Homo sapiens: one gene and its partners. The protein of the gene in region 3 interacts with the protein of the main gene of each other region in a pairwise test. Each region holds a gene or a part of one and is shown on either strand. Other genes may lie near its edges. The genes, in order: KCNJ6, TMEM19, SERTM1 and MTIF3.

What was found.
Region 1: the proteins of SERTM1 (region 3) and KCNJ6 interact in binary tests that used the Homo sapiens proteins (3 or more experiments, as listed by UniProt).
Region 2: the proteins of SERTM1 (region 3) and TMEM19 interact in binary tests that used the Homo sapiens proteins (3 or more experiments, as listed by UniProt).
Region 4: the proteins of SERTM1 (region 3) and MTIF3 interact in binary tests that used the Homo sapiens proteins (3 or more experiments, as listed by UniProt).

Annotation. Positions count from the first base shown.
Region 1 is NC_000021.9:37,908,613-37,914,973, forward strand, and holds part of KCNJ6 (G protein-activated inward rectifier potassium channel 2), read right to left. Parts: intron 1-6,361. UniProt on the Homo sapiens protein: Inward rectifier potassium channels are characterized by a greater tendency to allow potassium to flow into the cell rather than out of it.
Region 2 is NC_000012.12:71,692,582-71,698,942, forward strand, and holds part of TMEM19 (transmembrane protein 19), read left to right. Parts: intron 1-3,854; coding exon 3,855-3,992; intron 3,993-4,698; coding exon 4,699-4,953; intron 4,954-6,318; coding exon 6,319-6,361.
Region 3 is NC_000013.11:36,679,426-36,685,786, reverse strand, and holds part of SERTM1 (serine-rich and transmembrane domain-containing protein 1), read right to left. Parts: intron 3,593-6,361; exon of another isoform or gene 3,501-3,592; intron 1-3,500.
Region 4 is NC_000013.11:27,434,136-27,439,707, reverse strand, and holds the end of MTIF3 (translation initiation factor IF-3, mitochondrial), read left to right. Parts: intron 1-2,434; coding exon 2,435-2,592; intron 2,593-3,814; coding exon 3,815-4,033; 3' UTR 4,034-4,065; downstream 4,066-5,572. Other genes in the region: GTF3A (transcription factor IIIA), read right to left, coding at 4,111-4,275, 4,516-4,575, 4,674-4,903, 5,489-5,569. UniProt on the Homo sapiens protein: IF-3 binds to the 28S ribosomal subunit and shifts the equilibrium between 55S ribosomes and their 39S and 28S subunits in favor of the free subunits, thus enhancing the availability of 28S subunits on which protein synthesis initiation begins.

The DNA of each region.
Region 1 (6,361 bases), on a different chromosome or scaffold from region 3:
TTGTGTCTACTTTAACAGATCAGCTAACAGAAATCAAACAATATGTATTTGCATCTCTTTTGTTAAGAATCATCTACACCTACTCCAAAAGTCAACATATCCCAACTAATTTATTTTAAAAAAATACACCACTAAAGAATGATTCAAGGGCACCAGGAAATATTGTCTCTACCAGGAATCTTTTCACCACTGGGACAAATCATTTCCTCTGCCTTACTCTATCCTGATTCACATTAGCTGTATTTCTTTGCTGCCAGACATTTATATCGGGCATGCATACCAAAGACTCCAGTGTGTTCACCCTACCAGTTTCCCTCCTCCTGGATATAGAGCTGAACTACAATTTGCAGCTGCTCTTGCAGTTAGGTATGACCATAGAATATGAATAGGAGTGATATACATTACTTCTAGGCCCGGATCATTAAAATCTTCTACATAATCATCTACTCTCCCTCTTTCCTTGTCTGCTAGTTGGATATCACCACTCAGCAGATCTTAGAAGCCATGTACTAAAGATGACAAAGTGTCCCTCAGCCTGGGTCCTTGTACGGCATCAACCAATTAGATTTATGTGAAAGAAATCTTCTATTTTGTTAAATTAGTGAGATTTAGATATTTTCTGTTTCAAGAACTTTCTAATTAATACAGTATACACAGGCTCATCAAGAACTGAAGTTAATGCCACATTGCAATAAATGAATAAAAACATCTGCTATTTTTAAAGTGCCTACTTTGTGCTGGACACTGCACAAAGAACTTTTTTTTTTTTTTTGGAGACAGAGTCTCCCTCTCACCCAGGCTGGAGTGCAGTGGTGTGATCTCAGCTCACTGCAACATCTGCCTCCTGGGTTCAAGCAATTCTTGTGCCTCAGCCTCCTGAGTAGCTGGGACTACAGGCATGTGCCTCCACACCTGGCTGATTTTTGTATTTTTAGTAGAGATGGGGTTTTGCCACTTTGGCCAGGCTGGTCTCAAGTCATCTCCTGGCCTCAAGGGATCCACCTGACTCGGCCTCCTAAAGTGCTGGGATTATAGGTGTAAGCCACCGCTCCTGGCCTGTGCTAAGAACTTTACTTACATTATCACATGAATCCTCATAACATCTCTGAGGTATATGTTGTTATTATTACTCTTATTGTTATTATTTTATGATAGGGAAAGCAAGGCATAAAGTTGATTAAGGTCACATAGTTAGCATAGTGGATTATATTATTGCCTCCAATTATTCTCTTCCCTCTCTGAAAGATTAGATGTCTCTACCTGTTGCTGCACGGCTTGCAGTGCTTCACTGTGGGAGAAATATACATCTCCTTCCCATTGATCATTGACACTGATGTGACATGTGAATTGTCCGGTCAATGGAATGTGAGTGGATAACTTGTGCCATGTCTGAGCAGAAATGTTAAGGGCCATTGCTTAACTTGGGAGTCTCCTTTTCCTCTGATACTGGGATAGAGTGTTCCAGACCAATTCTTGATCTTGAATTCCAGAATGAAGTCACAGGAGCAGAGCCACAGCTGACCAGCAGAGGCATAGCGCTCCAGAGAATAATACGCCTTTGTTTTGTAAGCCACTGAGATGCTGGGGTTGCTGTTACTGCCCCAAACTTGGCAAAAATGGACAGATACACCTAGACCTTGATGCAGATTCAGTTAGTAAGAAACACCGGAGCCTGTGCTCTTAATCACGGAGCAACACCGCCTACCAAGCACATTGTCAAACTTGCACAAGTTCCTGCTAGATGATACAAGAGAAATTTAAAGCATCATGAAAAAAATCAATTCTTATCCTGGATAAGAAAAAAGTAGATGTCTGTAAGTTTAAAGAGGAAACTGCCACAGGATTTAAACTTAATTTATAGATATGTCTCTCACATTGCATATAATACCTTCAGATTTAGTCCCACAGAACAGTTGTTGGCAAGGACATGGATCTTTTTAGCCACAGATGCACTTTCTGGTTCCTTTTGTAAGGATTTCATGTCGGAAACCACATCTCTGTGACTGGGAATAAGACCGGTGATACATGTTAGCCAAAATCTATTCACTAAAAGAATCACCAGTACTGTATGATTCCTGGTCCTAAGCACAGCCATACAGAAAAAATGAGAAGCATGAGACTCAAGGAGATAATGGGTTTAATCTGACTTGGATACATTTGTATAGACATAAATTAGTCACTTGGTTAAAATTTAGGGTTAACTTTACACATTGTAATTGGGAAAATTGATTGATGGCCTTACTGCATTCCATATAAAATCAGATCTGAATGACCATTTGAACATTGCACACTGCACAAAATCATTCTCTGAGGTTTTGTTTAAACAATGATTCAATTTAGTAACAAATAAATAAATGAATATTTACAACTGATTAGCAGGTATGATTAGATCAAAGCTATAGTTTAGAGAGGATACAGACTCTTCTTTTAATGATGAGACCGCTCTTTGAGGAAAATAATTTCACTATTATTTAATGTTATTAAAATGATAGCAAGTATATGTATATTCTAGTACTTTGCCAGAGGAAATTCAGAATACCATTAGAGCACTAACTGCAATTGTGATTATCTCTTCTTTTTATTGGAGCCTAATTATTTCTAGAAATAATTATTTAAAATGCACTTCAAAATGTATTTTTATCCTAAACAGCTACATTTTATTCTTCTATCTCTCCAAATACTTTCACTAAAATTAAAAAGAAAACTAACTCAACAAAAGTGTTTTGATGATTTTTCAACTTAACTGCCAATTTCCCCCTTACTGGTATTACCAAAGTTAATAATTTTGTAAAACTCCAGAGTGAATCAATTATCTTTTGGTACTTAAATGCCAATTATTGAAGATAAAATGAAGAAACAAGAAATGCCATCTCAATAAGCTATAAATCCAAATTCACTGAATTTAAACATCTTAATTCCACCAAACTTAAAGTTCTAATACAATGAACTTAGAAAAACCAACCTCACTTTGAAAAGTATTGTCAGTTTAAAGCTGGTAGCAATAAGTAACTGCCTTTTCCCCTCACTTTCTTCTTTCCTCCTACTCTGCCTATTTCTGGTCCATTTCCATTTCCATATTACTTACATATCATTTGATAAAGGAAGAACTGGTGAAAAAGAGAAGAGCTTCACCTTATCTGCCTGCCTTTCCATAAAGAGCATTTATCTTGTTTTCATTAAGGTTTACATGGTCAACATTAAACCCTTGAGAACAGCAACATTTTCTACCTGTGAAAATCAGTGAATGGGGTTAAGATTCCATAAGGGTATTTTATTTTTAATCTCCAATGAATTTTTTCTATAACTTCTTAAATAACTATTCTAATTTTTTTCCCTATAAAGTAGAGGTAGACTGAGATGATAGGGAGGAATATGAGACTGAGTTAAAAGCCCTTCTATATTCTCAAGGAAAATAGTTCATGTAAGTCCTATGTATTAAATAAAGACCTGTCTCACACAAAGGAAAACATACTAATGTTTAGGCAATATCTAGATGAGGTAACTATTGTTTAGGCAATACCTAGAAGAGGTATCAAAATGATTTTTTAAAATAGCAAAATGGAACCAAGTGAATGGGGGCGAATTTTCACAAGTTGCTCTCCTTAACAAATCTTACTTGAAATGAGTAAACCAATTATTTTGGAGTATGCTATTGACTGAAAAGGGCATAGTGACACTTTGTTAATCAATTAGCCACCTAGGAAGAAAGCAAGTCATAGTTCGGTGAATAAGCACTGAATATGTGAGCATGGAAACTACCAGAAGTAAAGATTATTGACTGAACAATTTCATATACCTAGATTATTGACACCACCCCCCTTTTTAATTTATTAGAGAAATTGAACTTTAGAACTCAGAAATACATTACTTTGTTTATCTAACAGTCTATATTCTCGTATAGCTTCATCCTCATAATGAACGTCTACTTCCCTTCTGCTGATAATGTCAGATGGAACAAGGCCAAGGAACAGCTGCGTTGTTTAATACTCCACGTGTCACTTCTTCTGTCTACTTTAGGTAGCAACCTTTTCATAAACTAAATTATGGATAAACTTGTCAATACCTATCAGGAACTGAAATGTAAGAAATAGTGTAATAACTCATCCTTTTGCTTAGGTTTGAAATAGATTGCTCTGTCTTCACTAGCAATCATTTGAAAAGACTGGAAGGTAGAAACACACTGCTTTAACCACATCCTGAGTGCTCAGCATGCAATATCTTTAGAAACAACATGTCACACTTGGAAAGCCCAGCAAGGAAAACCAGGATCATATCTTGTTTACCATTAAAAATAACAAACCAGAACCAGCTCAAGACCTCATGCACAAGTGCATCCACAAAACAGGAAAGCAGCCAGGGATATTGTTGAAGCTTTATCAACATTTCCAACCAGTTGCCAAACCTTGACTGGGCTCTGCAATTCAAAGTATACCTTGTAACACCTGGATGGCACTCTGACAGGCATTCTATTTCAAATATGACTGTCACCTTCCTGTATTATTTTTCCTCTTCATATCAGTGACAGTTGTGGTGGTGGGGGACCTACTACCAAGGATGAGAGCAGGGCAAAGACCAGCTTCTCGTAAAGTGAGAGCAGAAGGGCTTGATGGACTTACCTGTTTTCCCTGTATGAATGTTGAAATGGAACTTGAATGGTAATAAATCCTCCCCTCCTGCAGTTTCTTCCTTGTTTGTATTAAGAGAAGTGACTCCTCTCGGTTTCCTACGACTGCAACCTAGGAAATGTAGCCACCTTGCTCACACGCAGGCTTGAAGATGTGATCACTGGCTCTCATCTTGCTAACAAACTCTCTCTCCTTTTCGGAAGCTCACCAGTGTTGTTTTGATTCCTTCCAGTTCTAGACCGAGAGGAAACTATATCTCCACCCTCTTCAGTCCTAGGACCCTTAGAAAGAATTTGGCTGGGCCGGATACGGTGGCTCACGCCTGTAATCCCAGCACTCTGGGAGGCTGAGGCAGGCGGATCACAACGTCATGAGTTCGAGACCAGCCTGACCAACATGGTGAAACCCCGTCTCTACTAAAAATACAAAAATTAGCCAGGTGTTGTGGTGTGCGCCTGTAATCCCAGCTACTCAGGAGGCTGAGGTAGGAGAATCGCTTGAAACCGGGACGCAGAGGTTGCAGTGAGCCGAGATCGAGCCACTGCACTCTAGCCTGGGTGACACAGCGAGACTCCGTCTAAAAAAGAAAGAAAGAAATAACAAACTTGGTTGGCTGGCCTCTCGCTGACCAGGGTGCTTCCACAGCTCCCTTCTGCCATCTATGCCCAACAAAAAGTTAAAGAGAAGAGCGTGAGAGGGCAAGGGATGCATGCTTTTGAAAGCCAAAGGGACTCAGCTGAAACTAGCAACCCTCGTCAGAGGCGGATCGGGGTGTGTGTGTGTGTGTGTGTGTGTGTGTGTGTGTGTGTGTGTCTGTGCGCGCGCGCGTCCTTTTTCTCCCCCTGAGGACAGAATCCTGTCTCCACTCTCAGTTCAGCTCAGGTCTTTCCCTGTCCCAGTGTTCTTGATTCTGAATAGGTCCTCTGATGCACCGCCATGCATAAAATGGATGATTTGCAAGCTTCTTTGCCTCACGTAATTCCGTGGGTAATTTGATATCCAGATTCTGCACGAGCCAAAGACTCATTTATTTATAGAAAGTGATTGACCTCCAGCGACCAAAGGAGTGGGTACTGCTTGCTGGGGGCTGCAGACAGGTGAGGCTTCACCCTCGGCGCCTGGGCTCTGGCCTTGGTGCTGAATCCGGAACCCGCTGAGGAACCACCACCTCGGCGGCCCCCAGGCAACTTTCGGGAGGTTTCAGGGGCACCCGGCCAGCTCTGGGCGCCCTCTCGAGCGTCGCCGTCAGGGAGTTGGGCACAACCGATGCCCTGGGACCCGCCACAGGGCACGCGGCTGGCGTATTCCTTTGCCTGGAGCCGGGAAAGTTTTGTCCAATTTTTTTCCCCTATAACTGGAGCTGCGGTCTCCCCTCCCACCTGGGTCGCCATGGAGACTCGAGCTCTTTTTCTTTCTCCAGGCAAAATGGGCGAAGCTCAGTTAGCTCAGCCCTGACTGTAGCAAGCCCTTTTTTCTCCCTAAGCAGTTCCTGGGCATCACCCTTTTCCGTTTCTTTTTTTCAGCAAAAGAAAGGCAGGCAGGGAACAGGGCTAGCAGGATGTGGCATTGCTCCCTGTACCGTAGGGCTCCCCGGGACCGACAGACTTTGGATAACAGCAGTTGGGAAACACTCTAAACATATAATACATCTCCAACTCCCAAACACTGGAGTTGTGGGGTTTTTTTTTTTTTCTCTTCCTTTTTTTGGGGGTTGGAGGCGGAATTCTTTGGAAAAT
Region 2 (6,361 bases), on a different chromosome or scaffold from region 3:
AAGCATGTCCTTAACTTACTTTCAGTAGTAACTGATAGTTCTAAAGTCAGGTAGCAAAAATATAATATGCATGTTTCTAAAAATTATCCTAGTGCTATAACATGCCACTTGATCTGCTTGAGCATAAAGGAAATCTGCTAGATTATAAACTCCTTGAGGACAAAGAGTATCTTATGCTTCTGTGTCCCATGTTTCTTTGAATAGTGCTAGATACATAATAGATGATTAGGAATAGATGTAGTCTGATTTTTAAAAACCTTTGCTTTTTTCCTAATTATTTCATTCTATGAACTGTTTATCTTTTCTTCTTTTTTGTAAAAAAAAAAATTATGGCCAGGTATGGTGGCTCACACCTGTAATCCCAAAACTTAGGGAGGCCAAAGCAGGCAGATCACTTGAGCCCAGGAGTTTGAGACCAGCCTAGGCAACGTGGTGAAACCTCGTCTCTACTAAAAATACAAATATTAGCCAGGCATGGTGACAGGTGCCTGTAATCCCAGGTACTTGGGAGGCTGAGGCAGGAGAACCGCTTGAACCCAGGAGGCAGAGGCTGCAGTGAGCTGAGATCATGCTGCTGCACTCAAGCCTGGGTGACAGAGCGAGACCCTGTCCCAAAAAAAAAATTTTTTTTTAGAGGCAGGGTCTCGCTCTATCACCCAGGCTGTAGTGCAGTGATGCAACCATAGCTTAGTGCAGCCTTGAATTCCTGGGCTCAAGCAGTTCGCCTGCCTCAGCTTCCTGGGTAGTAGCGACTACAGGCACGCGCCGCCACACCCAGCTTTTCTTACTGTTTGGAACTTTTTGTTTCCTTAAGGATAAAAAAAAATCTAATGCTGATTTAAAGTATATCATAGTAGTTGGGAATATTATCCTAGAGTATGACTGCAAGTCACTTAAACTCTCAGTGTTGTACTTGTCCTGTCTATAAAATGTGAAGGAATAATGGTATCTATAGCAATGAATTATCATGAAGTGTTATCCATGTAAAATGCTTAGCACAGTACTTGGCATACAAATATTTTATAGATGTTAGTTATTATTACTGTTTTCCTTCCACTACTGCTATTCACAGTGATATAGTTTGACCATGTCTCCACACAAATCTCATCTTGAATTGTAGCTCCCATAATTCCCACATGTCAAGGGAGGGACCTGGTAGGAGGTAATTGAATCATGGGACAGGTCTTTCCCGTGCTGTTCTCGTGATAGTGAATAAGTCTCACGAGAGCTGATGGTTTTGTAAAGGGGAGTTCACCTACACAAGCCCCCTTGCCTGCCGCTATGTAAGATGTGACTTTGCTCCTCATTTGCCTTTGGCCATGATTGTGAGGCCTCCCCAGCCATGTGGAACTGTGAGCCAGTTGAACCTCTTTTCTTTATAAATTACCCAGTTTCAGGTTTGTTTTTATTAGCAGCGTGACAGCAGACTAATACACACAGTTATAAGAAATTTTACTTTGCTACATCATGACTTTAGTGTGTCTAGGATTTAGAAGTAAGAGTTACAGAACTTCCTCAGGATCTGGGTATTTAGAACCATTCATGACAGAAACATATACCTCAGTGTTAAGAGGATTAGGCAGGGGTTCAGTCACAGTCAGTCTCTAAGCTGCACACTGAAGTGGAGGGCTCTGGTCTCTTGGAGAGAGAGCGAGCATTGCCAGAATAAGGAGAGGGTCACATGAGGGGGATTTGTGGCAAAGTGTTTGTGGAAGAGCACAGCAAGAGGGGGTGTTGTCAGGAAAGGCCACTGGTGGTGCTCTGTGTGGTTTCACAAGGGTGGCCTGACCTCTTTTTGGTCACTATACTTTGGGTCTGGTTTCAGTCTTTCTGAAGTAGAAGCCTCACTCTGTCATGTACCCAGAGTTGATTAGAGCCTAGAAAACTGGTTGAGTGTTGCTCATTGTCATAAAGGATTGCTATATGAGCCAGAATGCCACTTCATTAATCAGATAGAAGAACTACCAGGCAGAAGAACACAAACATCACTGTTCAGGCATGCCCTATTCTTGTAGTCAGGCCACTTGAGAAGTCAGATTATAATTAGAAGGCTGCTTTGGTGAGTACAAAGTCTGAGAAACAGTTATGCAAATCCACAAATCAAAGGTTCCCCTCCCTTGGACATGGTTCAAGAAGTCTGCCAACCTCTGGTTCTTTTGGCCTTCACTTTCTACATTTTGGGCTAGCCAAGTAAATTATTATAGAATATGTATGAAGCAATAGGTGAGCTTTGAGTTTATTAAATTACTATGAAATTCCAGTCCTGCCTTTCTCTTTTATGCCTCCTGGAGATTACCCAGGTCACCCTGGTTGGAATTTGGGGTATAACTCTACTCCCATTGTCAGAAATTTGTAGACAGTGTCATTTTACTCCCCCAATGCTATCTGTTAGGTACAGAATTTACCTGTTTTAGGCTCACAAGGCAACCATAGTCCTCAAGTCTTCAAATTATTTGGGAGTGCCCTATTGTCATATATATGAACCCCTTATCAATGATATTTAGAGATCTGCAGGATGGAGAGGTAGAAAAGGTATGAACAGGAGATAGCAGTTACTAATCTAAAATGTAGACATAGGTAGGAGTTGCCAAAAGTTCCAAGCGATCTTTACACTGCATGAAAGAAACCATTCCCTCAAAGCTTGTCTTGTTCATTTCCTCAATCTGAAGCTGTCACCAACATGAACATTAATTGCTTCATGTGGTATTTTAAGGTGGCTGAAGTAAAAAGGATATAGATGCCATTTGTAACATCTCAGTGTAGGTTGTGTAGGGCTCTTCTACCTTGGGTTTGTTTAGAGACGGTGGAACAAATTGTTAACAGTGAATATTCATGAAGAGGAGGAGGGGAGACACTTTGACTTTCAGTTTGTATACTTCCATGTGTTTTGACTTTCCCCTTCAGTAGTTGCATACAACTTTTGTAATGTTTTAAAAATCAGTTGAAAAAACTTAAAGGTTGGATAACAATATTGTAATATTTATCATTATTATTGTTGAGCTTTTGCCACTGGAACTGTTGCTGTTATTAGTATCCATGATATTAGGTAACACTTATTAAGGACCTCTTACATCCTGGATAATATAATAAGCATATTACAAAAATTATCCCTGACTTTTTACAGCAAGCCGGTAAAGTCAGAATTCTGATTATTCTCATTTCACCAATGCAAAATTGAGACTTAAGGAGGTTAGGTAACTTATCCTAATCTTGAAGAGGTAAGTGAAGGAGCCACAGTTTGAACTCTAGACTGTTCAACTCCAGAGCTGAAGCACTTTGTTATTATTAATACTTTATATCAAGTTACCCTGTTTCTGTACTCTCGATTAAAAGGTACCAAAGTTAAATACCAGTAATTGAGTATCTCTGGAAGGGTCAATGAGTAACTATCTCATTGGTTATGATATCTGAACTTTGAGCTAAGCAATGGAAAGGGTTATTATAGAAAAAGAAGGCCAGGTGCTGTGGCTCACTCCTGCAATCCCAGCACTTTAGGAGGCCAATGCTGGGCAGATTGCTTGAGCCCAGGAGTTTGAGACCAGCCTGGGCAATATAGTGAGACCCCATCTCTATTTCTAATTTTTTTAAATTAAGATAATTTTAAAAATATTATCTAAAATATTATCTTACATTCATATGGCATTGCTTGAAAGGAGATTAAAATATGGTAAAAAATGTGTACTCAAAATGGCATTCAGTTTACTGCTTGCTAAGAATTTAATTGGTAAAATGCAAATTGCTAGAAATGTACATTTCAGGTTATAATATAAAAATAATGGAAAAAATCCATTCTTTTTTCACAGCATTGATGTATGAATTGAATATAATTCTGTGTTTATATATGTTTCTTTCAGGGCTAGTCGTTGGATTTATCCTAACCATTGCAAATTTCAGCTTTTTTACCTCTTTGCTGATGTTTTTCTTGTCTTCTTCGAAACTCACTAAATGGAAGGGAGAAGTGAAGAAGCGTCTAGATTCAGAATATAAGGAAGGTAAAATTATGTTTGATATCATTCAAAATAGTAAACTTCATTTAATCCTAACATAAGGTTTTTTTTTGTTTTTGTTTTTGTTTTTTTTTTTGAGACGGAGTCTTGCTCTGTTGCCCAGGCTGGAGTGCACTGGCGCAATCTCGGCTCGCTGTAAGCTCCGCCTCCCGGGTTCACACCATTCTCCTGGCTCAGCTTCCTGAGTAGCTGGGACTACAGGCGCCTGCAACCATGCCTGGCTAATTTTTTTGTATTTTTAGTAGAGACGGGGTTTCACCGTATTAGCCAGGATGGTCGCAATCTCCTGACCTCGTGATCCGCCTGCCTCGGCCTCCCAAAGTGCTGGGATTACAAGCGTGAGCCACTGCGCCCAGCCAACATAAGCTTTTAATCAGAATGTTGTTTAAACTGTCAAAACACATCAATTTTATATGAGAATTCCTTTAGTAGCCAAATTGAGTTTATAATTTATTTCACAACAATGGGAAATGACAGCAGAATTTTAGAAGCACTAGAGTCTATCATGATTTTTCCAGATTTGTTAATAACAGTATAAAATCTGGGCAAATGTACCATAACACTTTTACTGTTTTTAAATTTTTTTGTTGTTTTTCTTTTCTTAAACTTTAAAACATAAACACCTATAACTGCATGGTTTTTCTTCTAAGGAGGAATCATTTGTTTGTCCTTTTCATCTGTTTGTTTCCAGGTGGGCAAAGGAATTGGGTTCAGGTGTTCTGTAATGGAGCTGTACCCACAGAACTGGCCCTGCTGTACATGATAGAAAATGGCCCCGGGGAAATCCCAGTCGATTTTTCCAAGCAGTACTCCGCTTCCTGGATGTGTTTGTCTCTCTTGGCTGCACTGGCCTGCTCTGCTGGAGACACATGGGCTTCAGAAGTTGGCCCAGTTCTGAGTAAAAGTTCTCCAAGACTGATAACAACCTGGGAGAAAGTTCCAGTTGGTGAGTTTTTTCTTCTTTTTGACCCATTGGTAGACACAGTTGGTGAGTCTTGATTTGAGATTCTTTAAAAAAACCAAAAAACCTCTTGATGTAATGTATTTTAGAGCCTTTTAAGAACTTTATTTAGTCTCTTTAAATAATAATTGGAAAATTTCTGTCGACTATTAAATTGGTAATAATAAATAATATTTGCAGGAAATGTTAGCAAGACCTAGATAAGCAATACAGGAACATAGAGATTGATTTGCAAACATATCAGTAGGGAAGGAAAAGAGAGGGAACAATAGAATATTTATTGAGGGCCTGTTAGGATATCAGTGCTTTAAGATATATCTCAATTCTCCATTATCAACATTATCAACAACTACATAGGTTGAGCATCTCAAATCTGAAAATCCAAAATCCAAAATGCTCCAAAATCTCAAACTTTTTGAACACTGACATGATGCTCACAGGAAATGTTCATTGGAACATTTCAGATTTACGATTTTCAGATTCGGGATGTTCAACTGTTAAGTCTATATAATGCAAATATTCCAAACTCTGAAAAAATTTGAAATCCAAAACACTTCTGGTCTCAAGCAATTCAAGTAAAGAGAATACTCAACCTATACTGCTTCTTTTTGTCCTCTGATGCTTCTCTTCCTCTTCGTCCCCTTCTTTTCTTTCTACCCATCCTATCCCCCATCATCACCTTCTCCTCCTTTTTTTTCTCCTCTTCTTCATCATCATTGTAACAGCTAGCATATTTTAGATACCTACTACAGAGCACTATTCTAACTGCTTTACACGGATTGCCACTTAGTACTCCTAATAATCATATAAATTGGTTCTTTTATTATTTATATCTTATAAAGAAACTAAAGCACAAAGAAGTTAGATAAATTAACTACAGTCACATGGCTTAAGAGTAGCAGAATTGGGCCTGGCAAGGTGGCTCATGCCTGTCATCCCAACTACTAGAGAGGCTGAGATGGGAGGATCACTTGAGCCTGGAGTTGGAGGCTGCAGTAGGCTATGATCACACCATTGTACTCTAGCCTGGTTGATAGAGCAAAACCTTGTCTCTGAAAAGAGAGAGAGAGAGAGAGAGAGAGAGAGAGAGAGAGAGAGAGAGAGAGAGAGAAGCAGAACCAAGATTGAAACCAGGCAGTCTGGCTTCATTGAACCATTCTGCTTCATTGCTTAAAATGTCAAGAGTTACCGAGGAGAAAATACTGTTTTCTAAAAAGCTACAGTCTTTAGATTGCATTAAAGAGAATGCTTTCTTTAAATTAGTCTTGATTAGATAGGTACCTTGCTGTCCTTGCCTTTATGTGTTTGCTGATTATTAACCGGATGATTTTCTGCATGTTTCTTCTTCAGGTACCAATGGAGGAGTTACAGTGGTGGGCCTTGTCTCCAGTCT
Region 3 (6,361 bases):
AGCAAGTTCCACAGATAAAAAGGCTCACACTCCTTACAACTCTTATAACTAGCCTTAATCACCTCCTTAATCACCTTGGTTTGGGTGAGTTCTCTAGTGTAGCAAGAGTCTAAACTTGATCCCATGAACTCACTTACAGTCCAGGGCAGAGTCTTTTGTCATAGGGGCCAATGAACAGTTCAGAAATTGAAGCTAGTCATGGCAAAATGCAGCTGCAATTTTAAAAAATAGGAAACATTTATATGAATAGTGCTTTTCCCCAGTCATCACCAATCATATGACTGAGGATACAGGTAGGGACCTGAAATTGTCAGTGCCAGATGAATCTGATATTAGACAGAGGTTACATAAAACACGATCTATACAAGGAGACTAAGTGCTCTCTCATGGCTGCAAAATTACTCATCTACCTGGATTTCCAAGGACACCTGGGAAGGGAGAAAACAGAAAGAGGACGTTGTGTCCTTCATTAGGAAAGCACCTTCCCATGTGGGTTTCCCGTGGTCCTGCTAATCCTCAGTGTGAACACAGCGGCCGAGCCTGCCAATGCTCTCTGTTTCTCTCACAGGCGGCACAGCGAACTCAAAAGTCTGGTTAATAAAGAAAATGTCTACATGTTCCTCATAACATGGAACAAAATGATATGGCAGGCTATCAAGTGTGGGTGGAAATCAAGTCTTCAGCAGCCTGTTGTCATTTTAGATAACGATTCAAGACCAGAGCCTGTCAAAGACAATATGGAAGCAATAGACAAGTGTAGGCTCAAATTCTCCCAGAGCGTATTTCAATTTGAAAATGTAAGAAGGTGAAACTGAAAAATAATTAGGAATTATTTGTGGAAAACAGACTGCCAAAGTAGTGACCTATAGAAGATAGTTACACATTCTTTTAAAAATATAAATAAATATGTTTTCACTCAAGGAAATTATGGATAATCTTTAGTACAAGATTTAACTGACTTTGACAGTCCTTTATCAAGGCTGAGCTCTTCACCTTACTTTTAGATGATGTGAGCTCTGCATTTTTAATTCATTTGTAGAAATAGCCTACACTTTCACCCATTATTCACTATTTTTACATCTAGTATCAGTTCTCTTTCGTTTCAATGGTTTGAGCTGGGATGCAGAGACACATCATGGCAGAAGAATGATGAGAGGTACAGGAGAGAGGAAAGAGGTAGTGAGGGCATCCCCAAGTCATTGAGGAGTAGCAGTCTGTCTTCAGAGCATGATTGGCAGAGGAAGGCAAACCCAGGATGCTTGTGGAGGAGAAAGAATGTGCAGACAAATCAGTTTGAGAAAAAAGAACCAGAGTAACATAAATGATGGCTGCTAGTATTTATCAAATAAAAGCATGTACCAATTTTGGATGTGTGTCTGTATATGTATGTGTGTTTTCTTTAATCGCCACAACTCATTAAGTCAGTTAGTATTATCTCCCATCATCTTTTTTAGCAAATGAGAAAATTAAAGCTCAGAGAATTTTTTTTTTTGACAGAGTCTCGCTCTGTCGCCCAGGCTGGAGTGCAGTGGTGCGATCTCAGCTCACCGCAACATCTGCCTCCTGGGTTCAAGCGATTCTCATGCCTCAGCCTCCCCAGTATCTGGGAGTAGAGGCACCCACCACCACGTCCGGCTAATTTTTGTATTTTAGTAGAGACGGGGTTTCACCATGTTGCCCAGGGTGGTCTCAAACTCCTGAGCTCAGGAAATATGTCTGCCTCAGCCTCCCAAAGTGCTGGGATTACAGGCGTAAGCCACTGCGCCCCACAAGCTCAGAGAATTTAAAGGCTTGTCCAAGCTCACCCAACCACTTAGAGGCAGGGCTGGAATTCAAACTACATCTCTCCGTCTCCAAATTGTATGTTCATTCCATTCCTTCTCTCTGGGGAGACTGTGGGTTGAGGAGGAATGTATTTGAGACTTGTAGTCACTAGTGCTGTTCACGAAATATTTCTGATGTCCCTTCTCGTAGGCCTGTCGTAGGATTTCATGTTCCCACTCCCTCTGAATTTAGGGTGACTGTATGACTTATTTTGACCAATGAAATGTATGAAAGGTGACATGTCCCTTCTGGATAGAAAATGTAAGACCTAGTGTGAGACTTGCCACACCTCTTCCCTCTGCTGCAGTTATTGTGTAATGGTGTAAGTACCTGCCAATGTCTATCAGTCTGCATCCTTGAGTGACCACAGTGAGTATCTTCACCCCTTGCTGGCCCCATTGACACTTATGTCAACATTAATAAACTTTTGTTGTTTTAAGCCACTGAGATTTGGGGCTTATTTGTTACTGTAGCATCATTCTCCTTCTACTAACTAACATAAGGTCTCACTATACTTTGATGGCTGAGTTTATTATGGGTCTGTAAGAATTTGACCATAAATAAGTCAAATTATGAATAATTGAGAGTTGTATGAATTGTGTATGTAATATATTAAAACTCTATTTTGGCACTGGTGAGAAAGAAGGTTTTCAAGGCTGTTTTGGTTAGCTTTAATTTCATAGAAGTGTTAGGTTTAAGGGCATGAGATTTAGCTACTGGTAGTGCCAAAGACATGTTCCTTAACAAGCTCAAATATGATGAGCTGCTACTGTATAAGGATAATCCTGACCAGCTGTCACTTAAACAGGCCAAATGGTTTCAAATGGGAACAGGTGAGAGGCAATAAGAATATTAAGACTAACTCATGACTCCTAGTGGAAAAAAAAACTCATCGTACAAGGGTCAGTGGTATTGTTTTTGGTTAAGAAAAACTAGCTACTTGGGAGGCTGAGGCAGGAGAATCATTTGAACCCAGGAGGCAGAGATTGCAGTGAGCAGAGATCATGCCATTGCACTCCAGCCTGGGAGACAGTGTGAGACTCCATCTCAACAAATAAATAAAGAAAGAAAGAAGAAAAAGAAAAACTATAGTATTTGCTGCATTCAATCATACATTGAACAAATATTTCTTAACAATGTACAGGAAGGGGTAGAATATTATCATTATGTGCATGAGTCTAATGCATCTATAATTTGTATAGTTGCCAGCTACAGTGAGAAATCTAAGACTTCTCTTATATGGTCTGTCCCTTATGATCTGGCCACAGGCTACTTTTCCAGTCTCGTTTTTACCATTGTACCTAAGATTTGCGTTCCAGGCATAACATGCTGTTTTCAATTCTCCAGTTAAAAAAATACTTATGTTCAATCCTTATATGTGTACATATCCTCTCCCTAACTTGAACCCAAATCCAATTTATTCACTGCAGGTCTCTACTCAAGCCATCCATCCTCTGTCTCATCTGCTTATTATTCACCTAATAGAAATCCCTACCTACTTTCTCTATGCAAATTTCTGGCTCCCTCCTCTGCATTCTCAGCATACTTTCTGTACCTTTCTACACTAGCATTTCTCACATTTTATTATACTTACTACATTTATTTACCTATCTGCTTTAACAAACTGGGAAGTCCTAGAATAAAGAAATAACAATTCACCTATCTTATATCCACAGACTAGTACAGAATGTGGCATAAGGATGATCAATCAGCATTTGTTAGATGGCTGCATGAATGAAAGAATAAGGGAATAAAGAAACTTGAAGCTTCTTGGAGAGATAGCTCATGTTTATTCTGTCTTTACAGGCAAAAGAATGTTTATTTAACAAATGAATAAATGATCTTGTGTAAAATCATAAAGATTACTCAAAGGGGGTAAGCATCAACAGTAAAGAATAATGATGATGAATGCTCTCTAAATTTTAGAAGTGTTTCAATTATGGCAATAAAATTAATAGTTTCTGGTTCCAGGGCAAACTATGCCCATACTTTTAAAAATCAACCAACTGTGTCTTTCAACAATGTCTAAGAAAGCTAAGATTTTATTTGGTCAACTGTTCACCAGGATAATTGAGGAAAGGATGGAGGAGTGTGCTGGAAATACTGAAATACATTCTTGTGAACAAGCTGGAGGGTTGTAACAAATGTATTCTGAAGGGCACAATAAAAATCAAGAGAGTTTACCATAGTGAGACTATGAAGCTCTGGCTGAATATGACCCAGAATGCATTTTTAAAAGAATTTCTTAAACTCCATGATAATTCCATCCTTTGAAAATCACAAATCCTTTATCATCACAACCTATGACACTGTGCTCATCTGTGGAAATAAAAAGGGTCAAGGAAAATCCCCACTTCATGATCATTGTAGGGGAAGCTTATTATAATTCACTACATTCAGGAATATCACATACCATAGGATTGTTAGCTACTCCATCTCAATGCTAAACCAAACCAAACCAAAATGAAACAAAAACAGCTTGAAAAATTCAATAGCAAATCAGCACAGAAAAAGAAAATGTTTACATTTTTATCAAATGTTCAATTTGACTACAAAGTGCTACTTTGGAGATCTGGGCTACTCAAAGTAGCCACCTGGCTCCCTCAGTGGCATGTTGGTTACAGGTCCCTGTGAGATGAGGAAACTGCAATAAATACAGTGCTTCCTTCATCAAGAAAGTCTTGCTACAAAAGAAGAAAAAGAAAGAAAGGAAATAGTTAAACTAAAAAGTATGCCTAGTACCTTATTTGATTTATATTCTGGCACGAGTTCTGTATCTCATGACGAATAAGTAATAATTCAAATGGGCGCTGGTGCATGGACTGTGCTTCGAGTAGTACTTGACGCAGATCATAGCCATGGTGATGTGAGCAGCAATCTCCTTACCAGCACTATGCCAGGGAACTAATCCAAAAACCTCAGCTTCTTAGGAAAATAATAAGAGGAGTGAAAACAGATGAGCACAAGAGAAGCAAATATTCTCTTTTTTCATTCATCGTACAACTAACTGCAAATATATAGCAGGTACTAGGTACCTGATTTATTCTTTTGTTTTCCTTTATAGTCCCTCTAAATCTTAACTTTCCCCTATTAAAAAACAGGAGAATCGCTTGAACCGGGAGGCGGAGGTTATAGTGAGCAGAGATCGCACCACTGCACTCCAGCCTGGCAACAGAGCGAGACTCCGTCTCAAAACCAGAAACAAACAAACAAAACGACAACAACAACAACAAAGTAAAACCATTGAAAACTAAAAACCACACAAGCAGCAATAACAACAAAAGAAAAAAATTTTCATAGAATCAGAGAGCTACAAGTCTTTAGCAATCAGGAAAATGACACCCCCAAAAGTTAAGTGAAGTTTGAAGGTCATTGTTTATATGTCACTTGTTTTTGAAAAAGGATATGTAGTAGGAACTCCAGCTAGTGAAAGAGACCACAAATTGAGGGCCTAGCACCCCCTTTCCAACCCTAAATCCACTCTATACTCAGAGCTGAGCTGAGTGGCTAACAAGAGGAAGGCAGACAAAAAAGAAGTTAATTTTTTTTAATCCAGAGGCTTTTCATCATATGAATCAAAATATGTGCCAAGCAGGGAGTTCAGTGGAAAAATGTAAGGCCAAAACCGACAGGGATAATAAGGCGACACTTGAACAGACTGAAAGATCTTAGAAACTCATTCCATTCAACTAGACCCATTTTGTTGGCGAGGAGTCTTTCTGAAGGTCTGAGACTAGCATCCAAGCTCACCAAAGACTTTCCCATGAGTAGTTGTTAGAACGACAGTTTTGCCTTGAGGAGAATGGCAGAGGGTACAGATTGAGTATCCCTTATCCCTTATCCAAAATGCTCTGGAATCAGTGTTTCTGATTTTGAATTTTTTTTTGGATTTTGGAATATTTGAATATACATGAGATATCTTGGGGATGGGACTCAAGCCTAAACACAAAATTCATTTATGTTTCATATACACCTTATACACATAGGCTGAAGGTAATTTTATACAATATGTTTAATATTTTTTTTTGCATGAAACAAAGTTGTGTGCGTTGAACCATCAGAAAGCAAAAATGTCACTATCTTAGCCACCCATGTGAACAATTTGTGGTTATTTGGTATCACCATAATTCCTGACTGAATTTATATGCTACTCATAGGAATTATTTTCTTACACTTATTCGCACACAAATACTTAACACTAAAAGATATGACATCATTAATACACAGAAAAAAATGTGTTCAAGGGTAACTAAGCAGGTCAGGTGCGGTGGGTCACACCTGTAATCCCAGCACTTTGGGAGGCCAAGGCGGGTGGACCACTTGAAGTCAGGAGTTCAAGACCAGCTGGCCAGCATGGTGAAACCCCATCTCTACTAAAAATACAAAAATTAGCCAGGTGTGGTGGCAGGCACCTGTGATCCCAGCTACTCAGGAGGCTGAGACAGGAGAATCGCTTGAACGTGGGAGACAGGTGTTGCAGTGAGCCGAGATTGCGCCACTGCACTGTCCAGCCTGGGTGACAGAGCAAGACTCCATC
Region 4 (5,572 bases), 9.2 Mb from region 3:
CTCTTTCCCCTGTCCTGTGGCCTTCTCCCAATGCCGCAGCAAGCTGAGTAGCCGATGGGGTGAAACAGAGTGAGATTAGGAGGGGTACATTCAAGTTCCCTGCCCTCTGCCGGGCCACTCATTTAACCTCCCTCCTTTTGTTTTTCTTCCCCTTCTTCAACTCTAAAGTGGAGGTGTTTGGTTAATTATCTGGAAGCACCTTTTTATTTTTTTGAGATGAGTCTCTGCCTGCCGCCCAGGCTGGAGTGCAGTGGTGCGATGTGTGCTCACTGCAACCTTCGCCTCCCAGGCTCAAGCGATTCTCCTGCCTTAGCCTCCCCAGTGGCTGGGATTACAGGCGCCCGCCACCACGCCCGGCTAATTTTTGTATTTTTAATAGAGAGGGGGTTTCACCATGTTGGCCAGGCTGGTCTTGAACTCCTGGCCTTAAGTGATCTGCCCTCCTCGGCCTCCCAAAGTGCTGGGATTACAGGCGTGATCCACTGCGCCTAGCCTGGAAGCACCTTTTCGACTCTGAAGTGATTCACAGAGCATCTCCCATGCCAAAGCATTGTGTTGCAATATCAGTAGCAACACTCTTAGATATACAACCAGTCACTTGACGAGGCACTTGTCATTTAAGCCTCACAGAAGTCAGGAATTGGATATTAAGCAAAGATGTTTGTTTTTCATAGTTCCTAAAAAGTGCCAATCATTATGAAAGTTCAATGGATGGCGCACGGGGACAGGCATCAGATGACTGCTCCCAGCACTGCATCGTGAGGTTGTGTGCCTTCAGAAAACCACATGTTATCTGCGGCTCAGTTTTGTAATGCCACATTTAACAAGGATGTTGACTGGAAAACAATATTCAGAAGAGACCAACCAGGGAGGATAATGACGTCAAACTATGTCACTTAAAAAAAAAAAGGTCACTGGGCGTGGTGGCTCACGTCTGTAATCCCAGCACTTTGGGAGGCCAAGGCAGGTGGATGGCTTGAGCTCAGGAATTCAATACCAGCCTGGGCAATATAGCAAAACCCCATCTCTACAAAAAATTTTAAAATTAGCAAGGTGTAGTGGTGCAAACCTGTGATCCCAGCTACTTGGGAGGCTGAGGTGGGAGGATCACTTGAGCCTAGGAGGCAAAGGCTGCAGTGAAGAACCATGATCATGCCACTGCACTTCAGCCTGGGTGACAGAGCGAGACCCTGTGTTTAAAAAAAAAAAAAAAAAAAAAAAAAACAGTCTTGCTCTGTTGCCCAGGCTGGAGTGCTGTGGTGTGATTTCGGCTCACTGCAGCCTCCATCTCCTGGGATCCAGCAATCCTCCCACCTCTGCCTCCCACACAGCTGGGACCACAGGTGCACACCACCATGCCTGGCCTTTTTTTTTTTTTTTTTTTTTTGTAGAGATGGGGTCTCGCTATGTTGCTCAGGTCTTGAACTCCTGAGCTCCAACGATCTGCCTGCTTCAGCCTCCCAAAGTGCTGGGATTATAGGCGTGAGCCAGCACACCTGGCCCCCAATCTTTATGATGAACCCTGGTGCATACTCTAGGGTCTATGAACCTAAATGGATCAAACTGCTCAGCAGCAGTGTATGCAGTTTCTCTACCTCCTCCCTCATTTGTCATTTTAATGGTGAGAAATTAATGTGTATTTCACTTTTTTCTTCTGTGAATTGCGTGTTTATATTCCTTTATTTTTCTACGTAGATGGTTTTTCTCCGATTTATAGGGTTCTCTGTTGTGTATGATGGAAAAAACCGTATCCCAGTTAGATTTTTCATTTTGCCTTTTTTTCTTAATGAGTTCCATCCCCTATCCTGAGATCACAAACCATTCTGTCTTTTCTTCTGTTTGTTTTAAAGTTGTATTTTTCACCTGTAGAACATTAGTATACCTGGGGAGACCTAACTTTTTGTCATCTATAAACTTCTCAATTGTCCCAACACCTTTATTGAGTGGCCGGTTCCTTCTCTATAATTTTCCAGTAGGCAGGATTTCTGGAGACAGAGGGCATGAACACAGGATGTAGGGACCCTTACCTGTCCAACAGTCTGGCTGACCCCTTATAGCAAGGAGAGCATCTCAAAAGGAGTGGGTAGTGCACTCCCAGATGCCAACCCACAGCTGATAGATAAGGATGTTAAGTGCACCATGAAGCCAAACTTGATCCTTTAAACGACTATCTTTTGGTGTTCTTTCAACAAACGATGGTTAACAATAAATGGAAGCATTTCAGATTTTAAGTACCCTTCCAGGGCAGGTAAAAAATTGGTACCTTTATGTGTATCTTCCCCATTTGAAAAGACATTTACTGGTCTGTGAAACTGAAAGCCAGATGAGAAGATTGTCAGGTGGCAACCTAGGATTTTATGATGGGCATGTTGGGAAGTTCAGGGTTCACAGTGGACTAGTCAGTAGTCCTTGCACCCTATCTGTTTCAAACCAGGACCAACCCTGAGAAAGGAACTGATTTTGTCTTCAAATATTGGACAACATGATTTGGACACAAAGACTAAACAGATTCAGCAGTGGATTAAGAAAAAACACCTAGTCCAGATTACCATAAAGAAAGGAAAAAATGTAGACGTGTCAGAAAATGAAATGGTAAGTAAAGAAGGTACAAGCCACTGCTTGTGCTTTGGGTCTTCTGATCTAAAAATACAATTGTAGGCCAGGCGCGGTGGCTCACGCCTGTAATCCCAGCATTTTGGGAGGCCAAGGTGGGCGGATCACGAGATCAGGAGATTGAGACCAACCTGGCTAACATGGTGAAACCCCGTCTCTACTAAAAATACAAAAAATTAGCCAGGCGTGGTGGCGGGCACCTGTAGTCCCAGCTACTGGGGAAGCTGAGGCAGGAGAATGGCGTGAACCCGGGAGGCGGAGCTTGCAGTGAGCCGAGATCGCGCCACTGCACTCCAGCCTGGGTGACAGAGCAAGACTCCGTCTCAAAAAAAAAAAAAAAAAAAAAAAATTGTAGAAAATCTGAAATATAAAGACAAAGTGACTGGTAATTCTTCCACCCAGTGATGTTAACAGCTTTCTAGTTTGCTTTTCAAAACTAAGCATACTGTAGATATAGTTTCCATTACAGCGTATTTTGCCATATGAACACATTATTCCTTAAAAGCAATATACTATTGTTTTATAAATTGTAGAATAACCCTTAAACAGGAAAATTAGAAACTTTATAGATTTTTTGTTTCTTCTTTGTACTTATAGGGGCATTAATTACGTAGACTGTCTTCTAGAAAGTGTGTAGTTTCCAATCCCATAAGTTTATGGAATACCTATTTTGCTTTTTTTTTTTAAAAGTTAGATAACTTTATCATCCACTAAGGGTATCCTTAGTAATCCAGCTCCACAGTAGAGTCACTTAAGCATAGGTCGCAACCCAGCTGATGCAGAATTTCTTGAGCCCAGGTATCCATTTGTTTCAGTCACTGAGAGAGACTCTGTTAGGGGCAATAGAGAGTGCTGAGAACTGCTCGGCTGACACCTTGGGGATGAGGAGGTATTTTGCCAATGCCCAAACCCAGTGCTTTCTGTTTGTGGGAGAGGGTAATGCTGAGCCAAACGTAGCCTCTTCGTGCCATGACGAAGTGGAGATTTAAAATTAGGAAGCATTCAGCATGTCAGTTTAGTTACATGGTGTTATTGTACAGATTTCAGTCAACTTAACCAGATACGTATGAACTGATTAGCTAATCACTTAACCGACAGCAGCAATTCAAGGGTGCCAGTTTTTGTGAATGTTCAAGCAGAACATTAGAAAGCACCAAAGCCTCTGATTTTAAATTAATCTTTGGCTGTTTCCCTTTTTTAGGAGGAGATATTTCATCAAATACTCCAGACTATGCCTGGAATAGCTACATTCTCATCTAGGCCACAAGCTGTTCAAGGAGGAAAAGCTTTAATGTGTGTTCTTCGTGCTTTCAGCAAAAATGAGGAGAAGGCATATAAAGAAACTCAAGAGACCCAGGAAAGAGACACTTTGAACAAAGACCATGGAAATGATAAGGAATCAAATGTTCTGCATCAGTAATTTTAATAAAGAAAAGCATGCTCTGAGAGAAAGCTCGCTCCTTGGTCTGCAGTCCTTTAAACAAAGCAGTGCAGTTCTTAGCCAAGGGTAAGTACTGCAACTGTCGAGAGCATCTTGTCTTCCACACAGTTGGGTGACTCTCCGTTTTGACACAAAGATAAGCCTTGCCCTTGTTTCCTTTTGGGAGGGATATATCCACTGAGATGAGAGGCCAAACTCCGTTTTTCACGAGATTTTTTGACCTTTGGGAATAAGGAAGACACACGATTAGAATTCAAAATCAAAACTGTCTGAGTTAATTTTACGATAGTCATATGTACCAGCAGATATAGTGTACAACATTGCTTTATGAGGAAGTAAAGTCTTCAACAGTAGTGCAGACTCAAACAGTAAAGCAGGTGAAAAGAATTCCAAACAGACTCCTTCTGGCCTTAAACAATTTCCACTTGAAAACTAAGCTTGCCTAAGTAGTTTCAACTTACTTTGAGCTTCATTTTCTTCTTGTCAGGATCATGTACAACAGCATGCCTAGTGAGACTTTGCTACAATGAAAGAGAAAGTTATTAATGAAATATTAATATGAAAACCATGTTGTGAAAGCATAGACTATAGGACCATGAGTATGAGGGTGAGTGCTTACTTTCATTGCAAATGTTTTGCCACAGCCAGCATGTTCACACACAAAAGGGCGGCTTTCCTCATGGAAGGAGAGGATATGGCTTTGGAGATTAAACACAGTTGTATAGGTTCTTCCACAGCCTTCTCTTGGACAGCGACATACATCCCTTTCTGGGGCATGAGTTTTCATGTGTTGCTTAAGGTAATCTTTGCGTTTAAATGTTTTCCGGCATACTTCACATAGTATTTCCTCTGGTGGGACAGACAGACAAATTTCACAAATTTCCCCAGATATTACCATTTAGAAAAAATTAATACCTAATATATAAGTAACATTCAGTGCCTGAAACCTGATCACTATATACAAATCAGAAATTCCCAAGGAAACAACCCCAGTTTTTATCACCTAGGAAGTTTGTCTCAATTCTCTGAAGTTCTTAAATGCCACACAGTCATTGTTCACTTGCCAAGAGGCAGGGCTCTCAGGAAGGTGACTGTGGGGAGGTACAGAAAATGAAGCAGACCAGTGTCCTTCCTTGTCCCCCAGTATGCAGGGTACTGTTTCCCAGGCGGTCCCACAGAACAGCAGTGCCTCCCGAAATTCTTCACTACAGACCTGCCACCGCCTTCAGCATGCTAATTGTGCATGGTGGGGTGGCTCAGAGACCTGGCACAGCTCTGCTCACCTTTCCAACAACATCATACCCAGCACTTCACAAAATATCATAGAGAAACCCTTTTACTTTAAAGCACACAGCATTTCACTCTTGAAAAGCACTAAATCAGTTCTGTGGGGACAAACATTTACACCATGCCTGCCATTCATGCCTGCCTTACCTTTATGGGTTTCTCTCACATGTTTCAGAAGTTCCGTCCATGTTTTTGCCACAAAGGAACATCCTTTTTGACATACATAGCCTA